Homo sapiens: one gene and its partner. The protein of the gene in region 2 interacts with the protein of the main gene of each other region in a pairwise test. Each region holds a gene or a part of one and is shown on either strand. Other genes may lie near its edges.

What was found. Proteins that work in one complex are often made in the same cells at the same time.
Region 1: the proteins of SHMT1 (region 2) and SULT1A3 interact in a two-hybrid assay, tested with the Homo sapiens proteins (one large-scale study listed by BioGRID).

What each region holds. Positions count from the first base shown.
Region 1 is NC_000016.10:30,198,110-30,202,054, forward strand, and holds the start of SULT1A3 (sulfotransferase 1A3), read left to right. Parts: upstream 1-1,145; 5' UTR 1,146-1,218; intron 1,219-2,615; 5' UTR 2,616-2,619; coding exon 2,620-2,767; intron 2,768-2,871; coding exon 2,872-2,997; intron 2,998-3,086; coding exon 3,087-3,184; intron 3,185-3,945. UniProt on the Homo sapiens protein: Sulfotransferase that utilizes 3'-phospho-5'-adenylyl sulfate (PAPS) as sulfonate donor to catalyze the sulfate conjugation of phenolic monoamines (neurotransmitters such as dopamine, (R)-adrenaline/epinephrine, (R)-noradrenaline/norepinephrine and serotonin) and phenolic and catechol drugs.
Region 2 is NC_000017.11:18,327,373-18,329,961, forward strand, and holds the end of SHMT1 (serine hydroxymethyltransferase, cytosolic), read right to left. Parts: intron 2,017-2,589; coding exon 1,906-2,016; intron 1,548-1,905; coding exon 1,378-1,547; 3' UTR 501-1,377; downstream 1-500. UniProt on the Homo sapiens protein: Interconversion of serine and glycine.

The DNA of each region.
Region 1 (3,945 bases), on a different chromosome or scaffold from region 2:
GGCTGGAGTGCAGTGGTGTGATCTTGGCTCACTGAAACCTCCGCCTCCTGGGTTCAAGTGATTCTCTTGCCTCAGCCTCCTGAGTAGCTAGGATTACAGATGCCCGCCATCATGCCCAGCTAATTTTTGTATTTTTAGTAGAGACAGGGTTTCACCATGTTGGCCAGCTTGGTCTCGAACTCCTGACCTCAGGTGATCCTGCTGCATCGACCTCCCAAAGTACTGGGATTACAGGCGTGAGCCACCACGCTCAGCCTCTTTCTTGTTCTATATGTCCATGCTCTGCTCCACTTCTGCCCCTTCACTCTGCCCCCACACATCACTCCAGACTGGCCTTGTGGTCAGAGCCTGGAATGCCTGGGCTGCTGGGGGCCTGTGGACTGCACTGGGCCAGAACCCCTGCCGCCTTCAAGACTGGCCTGTAGCCAGCAGGTAGGTGACTTTTCCCAGGCCGGCCTATCCCACCTTTCCCCTCCACTCACTCACCTCCCTTGCCTGGGTCAATTAGAGAAAGCTTGTCGGCCAGGCATGGTGGCTCATGCCTGTAATCTCAGCACTTTGGGAGGCCGAGGCGGGCGGATCATCTGAGCTCAGGAGTTTGAGACCAGCCTGGCCAACATGGCAAAACCCCGTCTCTACTAAAAATACAAAAATTAACCGGATGTGGTGGTGTGCACCTGTAATCCCAGCTACTCGGGAGGCTGAGGCAGAAGAATCGCTTGAACCCAGGAGGGGGAGGTTACAGTGAGCGGAGATCGTGCTACTGCATTGCAGCCTGGGCGAGAGAGCGAGTCTCCATCTCATATAAAAAAAAGAAAAAGAAAGAAAGAAAGCTTGTCTGTTGGCCTGCCCTGCAGGGTGGAGTTCAGAGGGAAGGTCAGGAGCCTAGTGACAGCTCAAAAAAAAAAAAACCCAAATACCAATGTTGGCCCCTTTTGCCTTTCATTCATGTGTTTTCTATACACTAAACTCACATATTGGGTTTGCAGATCACTCCAAGCTTGGCTGGAGCTGTGGTGGTAAGGAGGGTAATAGAGAAGCTTCCCCACCCTCAACCCCACCCCTTCCTTCCTGGAGTTCCCAGCCCTGACTTTAGATCCCTCCCACACTGGACCTTCAAAACCCTCAGGGCAGAGAGCAGCCCTACACTCCCTACACCACACCCATACTCAGCCCCTGCAGGCAAGGAGAGAACAGGTCAGGTTCCCGAGAGCTCAGGTGAGTGACACGTTGGAATGGCCCAGGGCACCTTCACCCTGCTCAGCTTGTGGCTCCAACATTCTAGAAGCCGAGGCCTCTGCCATCCCTGCCCTTTCCCATGGATATTCCATTTCAATTAGACAACCCAGCCTGGCCGGAATCCCCCTGCGTTCCTTCTTTTCCTTTGTGTATTTTTGAGACAGGGTGTTGCTCCGTCACCCAGGCTGGAGTGTAGTGGGATCCTGGCCCACTGCAGCCTCAAATTCCTAGGCTGAGGCAATCCTGCCGCCTCAGCCTCCTGAGTAGCTGGGGTTACAAGAGCAAGCCACCACACCCAGCTAATTTTGAAAAATATTTTTTGTAGAGGAGAGGTCTTGCTTTGTTGTCCAGGTTGGTCTCAAACTCCAGGGCTCAAGGGATCCTTTCCCGTTGGCCTCCCAAGGCTCTGGGATTACAGGCGGGAGTCACCCTGCCTGGGCCCCTCCTTTTGATGAGTCATCAGTTTTCATTCCCGCACGAGGCTCTAGCCCCTGGTACCAGCTTAGTTGCTCAATGGGCTGTGTTTGTTCTGGAGCCCAGATGGACTGTGGCCAGGCAAGTGGATCACAGACCTGGCCGGCCTGGGAGGTTTCCACATGTGAGGGGCATGAGGGGGGCTCAAGGAGGGGAGCATCGGGGAGAGGAGCGCACTGGGTGGAGGCTGGGGGTCCCAGCAGGAAATGGTGAGACAAAGGGCGCTGGCTGGCAGGGAGACAGCACAGGCAGGCCCTAGAGCTTCCTCAGCACAGCTGGACTCTCCTGGAGACCTTCACACACCCTGATATCTGGGCCCCGCGCTACGAGGGTGCTTTCACTGGTCTGCACTATGCCCCAGGCCCTGGGATTTTGAACAGCTCTGCAGGTGACTGAAAGGTGCGGCCAGGCTGGGGAACGACCTGGTTTCAGCCCCAGCCCCGCCACTGACTGACTTTGTGAGTGCGGGCAAGTCACTCAGCCTCCCTAGGCCTCAGTGACTTCCCTGAAAGCAAAAACTCTGCAAAGGGGCAGCTGGGTGCTGGCTCACACCTGTAATCCCAGCACTTTGGGAGGCTGAGGTAGACAAATCACTTGAGGCCAGGAGTTCTAGACCAGCCTGGCCAACATGGTGAAACCCCATCTCTACTAAAGAAAAAAAAAAATTAGCTGAGCATGGTTGTACATGCTTGTAATCCCAGCTACTTGGGATGCCGAGGCGGGAGGATTGCTTGAACCCAAGAGGTGGAGTTTGCAGTGAGCTGAGATTGTGCCACACTGCACTCCAGCTTGGGTGAGAGTGAGACTCCATCTCAAAAAAAAAAAAAAAAAAGAGAGAATCCCACTTTCTTGCTGTTGTGATGGTGGTAAGGGAACGGGCCTGGCTCTGGCCCCTGATGCAGGAACATGGAGCTGATCCAGGACACCTCCCGCCCGCCACTGGAGTACGTGAAGGGGGTCCCGCTCATCAAGTACTTTGCAGAGGCACTGGGGCCCCTGCAGAGCTTCCAAGCCCGACCTGATGACCTGCTCATCAACACCTACCCCAAGTCTGGTAAGTGAGGAGGGCCACCCACCCTCTCCCAGGCGGCAGTCCCCACCTTGGTCAGCAAGGTCGTGCCCTCAGCCTGCTCACCTCCTATCTCCCTCCCTCTCCAGGCACCACCTGGGTGAGCCAGATACTGGACATGATCTACCAGGGCGGCGACCTAGAGAAGTGTAACCGGGCTCCCATCTACGTACGGGTGCCCTTCCTTGAGGTCAATGATCCAGGGGAACCCTCAGGTGCATGGCTGGGTCCTGGGGGTAAGGGAAGTGGAGGAAGACAGGGCTGGGGCTTCAGCTCACCAGACCTTCCCTGACCCACTACTCAGGGCTGGAGACTCTGAAAGACACACCGCCCCCACGGCTCATCAAGTCACACCTGCCCCTGGCTCTGCTCCCTCAGACTCTGTTGGATCAGAAGGTCAAGGTGAGGCCGGGCTCAATGGTTCACACCTGTCATCCCAGTTTGAGACTGAGGAGGGAGGATCCCTTGAAGGCGAGAGATGGAGACCAGCCTGGGCAACATTGCTGTAGAGATGACATCCCATCTCTACAAAAATAAAATTAACAACCTGGTATGGTGGCATAGACTGTTCCCAGTTACTTAGGAGGCTCAGCGGGGAGGACTGTTTATGCAAATAGGAAGCTGCAATGAGCCCTGATGATCCTGCTGCTGCACTCCAGCCTGGGCAACACAGCAAAACCATCTCTACGAAAAAAAAAGTTCCCACTGACTGGCAAGGAAAGCCAGGAAGGGGGGCTCAGGTGCCCTCTCAGCCATGTACCTGTTCTTCTGGAAGGGCCTCCTCGCTTCTGCCAGGCTCATCACATCTTTTTTTTTTTTTGAGACAGAGTCTTGCTCTGTCACCCTGGCTGGAGTGCAGTGGCATGATCTCAGCTCACTGCAACCTCCGCCTCCCCAGTTCAAGTGATTCTCCTGCCTCAGCCTCCTGAGTAGCTGGGATTACAGGCGTGTGCTACCACACCCGGCTAATTTTTGTATTCTTTTTAGTAGAGACGGGGTTTCACCATGTTGGTCAAGTGGATCTCAAACTCTTGACCTTGTGATCCTCCTGCCTCGACCTCACAAAGTGCTGGAATTACAGGCGTGAGCCACCGCGCCTGGCCCTTTTTTTTTTTGAGACAGTTTCACTCTTGTTGCCGAGGCTAGAGCGCAATCGTGTGATC
Region 2 (2,589 bases):
TGGAGATGGCAGCTTGTCTCCAGCTGGGGAGGGGTCAGGCCCCTAAATTGAAGACCACTTTGGTAGCAGAACTGTAGGGACTGGTGAGTCAACTCACAGATTCTGCAGCAGCTGCTCCACCCACAATAAAGCAAACGCCGACAGGCTAGACCCCAGATTGCAGGGGCTGCCACCTACAAGGTGGGACCACAGGCTGCCTCACCGGGATTGTCTGCCACTAAATAGCTGGAGTCACAGATTGAGATAAATGCCACCTTCAAGGTTGCAGTGAAAAGCATAATCCTATGTGATGAATTTATATGTGTTATTTTTTAAAAAGCTATTTTATTACTGCATGTTCCCGTCCCGTCTTGTGAATGTGAGTCCCCGCCACCACGTGAGGTGCAGTCGTTGCAGCGGCTGGTGCAGGAGTGCAGCTGGCGCGTGTGTGATAGCATCTCGTAGGTGTTGCTGCACAAGAGTTAACCAGAGTCAATGCCAAACACATAGTATGAGAAGTGTACTTTTTAAGAAATTAATTTATTTGAGTTCAAATATTTTTGAAATATAAAAATTGGTTGTATTTTTTAAAGCTATAATTCTTGTAGACATTCTGTGGTTAAAAATTTGATTGTGCTTATTAAAAATGGTCATCTATGTTTTGCACTTCAGCTACGTGAAAATAAAATTTCTTTGGGAAGGTGACATTTGGCTTCCTGATTACGGGAGGGAGTTGGTTATCTCAGGTGGAGCAGGAAAGCCTGGTTGATTCTCACACCAGGATGGGACTGGGACTTCCCAGGATGGAGGGAGGAGGCCATTTCTACACCATACTTTGAGCTACTGACAGCAAAACCCTCCCACCATACTGGGTGCATCTTGTTTACTCTTGACTAACATACACTTCTGATTTACAGCAGAAGCCTCAGAAGCTAATTCAGTTCTCCTTTGGCATGCCACTGGATAACAAGATAGTGAGGGGGCAGTGTGTACAAGCTGTGGACATGGGCATTTCCTCTCTGTTGCAGCAAGGCGGAGGAAAGCCCAGGGAGAGTAAAACGCTACAATCTTTCTAACAGCTTTGCCCTACACCACCATCTAAATGATTATGACCAAGTGGCGACATAGTATTTTATTTTCCTAGAATTATGTCCAGCTGTGAGAAAGCCAGGTTCAAATTTAAATCCTTTAATAACCTGTCCCAGAATTACTAACAATGAGACTTAAACAAATTTTGATTTGTGAAGAAAACATGAAAAAAGTCCAAAAGAAACCCCCTCAAAGGGCCCGAGTGTCAACAGTTCCCCTTTGGAGCAGCTCATCCATCTCTCAGGTGGGGGTCCTCCGGCAGGCAGCTTCCTCTGTGGCGCCAGGTGGGTCCAGAGTGGGCCCGCTCCTTTAGAAGTCAGGCAGGCCAGGCAGAGGGAAGAGAGAGGCGAAGCTCTCAACCTCCTCCCGGAGAGCCTGCACGGCCGCCTGGTACTTATCCCCTGCCAGTCTCTCCTTGAACTCTTTCAGGGTGGCTCTGACACCAGTGTCGCTCTGGATCTGCAGGGTCAGCTCTATCCCTGTGCCACAAGACACAAATGAGTCACCCCACACTACACACCAAAGGGGGTACAATGGCTGGGGGCCGAGGCACAAATGTCAGAATGTCCCCCAGCTGGGGAGTGTGGCAGGGCACAAGGTCTCCATGCTTACCTCAATTACTCTGAGATGCACCCACCCTTGGACAGATGTCCTGGGCAGCCCAAATTTATAACCCTCTCAGACAAGGTGATTTACATGTGTTTTTTGCTGTCTCCCACCCCAACACTCAGCCTTGGTGCAGAATTGTCTTTCAGTGGCAGGGTCTCAGCTACTCATCACAATCAGAAACTAAATACACACAATAAGATGTGGCAACTTCCAAACTTTTATCCTTACCTCTGTGAATAAAGTGGGCTACTTTTTGGAAGTCTTTTTCCAAAAGTCCACGGGACGTCAGTGCTGGGGTCCCCAGCCGCAGTCCACTGGGCCGCAGAGCGCTTCTGTCACCTACAAGATAAACGGGGCTCTGTCCCTAAGTCACATTGTCACCACTGTGATGGTGGTGCATTTAAAAAGGGACATGTGGGCAAAAGAGAACTGGCCTGAGGATACTGGCTGTCCCTAGCAAGGAGTACAACTGATTCAGAAACTAAAGTAGAACCCAAGGCACAAGGAGGCACAACCACGTTTGGCCACTCTGACTTAATTACTAGTACACAAAGTGGTCTGATGTGCCCCTTGCTCCTAAAAATGAGGGTAACATCTGTCTGGGTCTGAGATGCGTCATCAATATTTTGTTAACAACCCACAGAGAAATGCAGCCTCTGGATTCCGGAGGCCCTGACCTCCCTCATCTGATGAATGTACCACCTCCAACAGCTCTACATCAGTCTTTTTGCTCCCTGGCAGGGTCAGGGCCAAGTACAAAGGCACAGCCAAGAGACAGCCAAGGTATGGTCCCTGCCCCCGCTCCATTTTTTGTTTTTGTTTTTGTTTTTTTGAGACGGAGTCTCACTGTCGCCTAAGCTGGAGTGCAGTGGCGCAGTCTCGGCTCAATGCAGCCTCTGCCTCCTGGGTTCA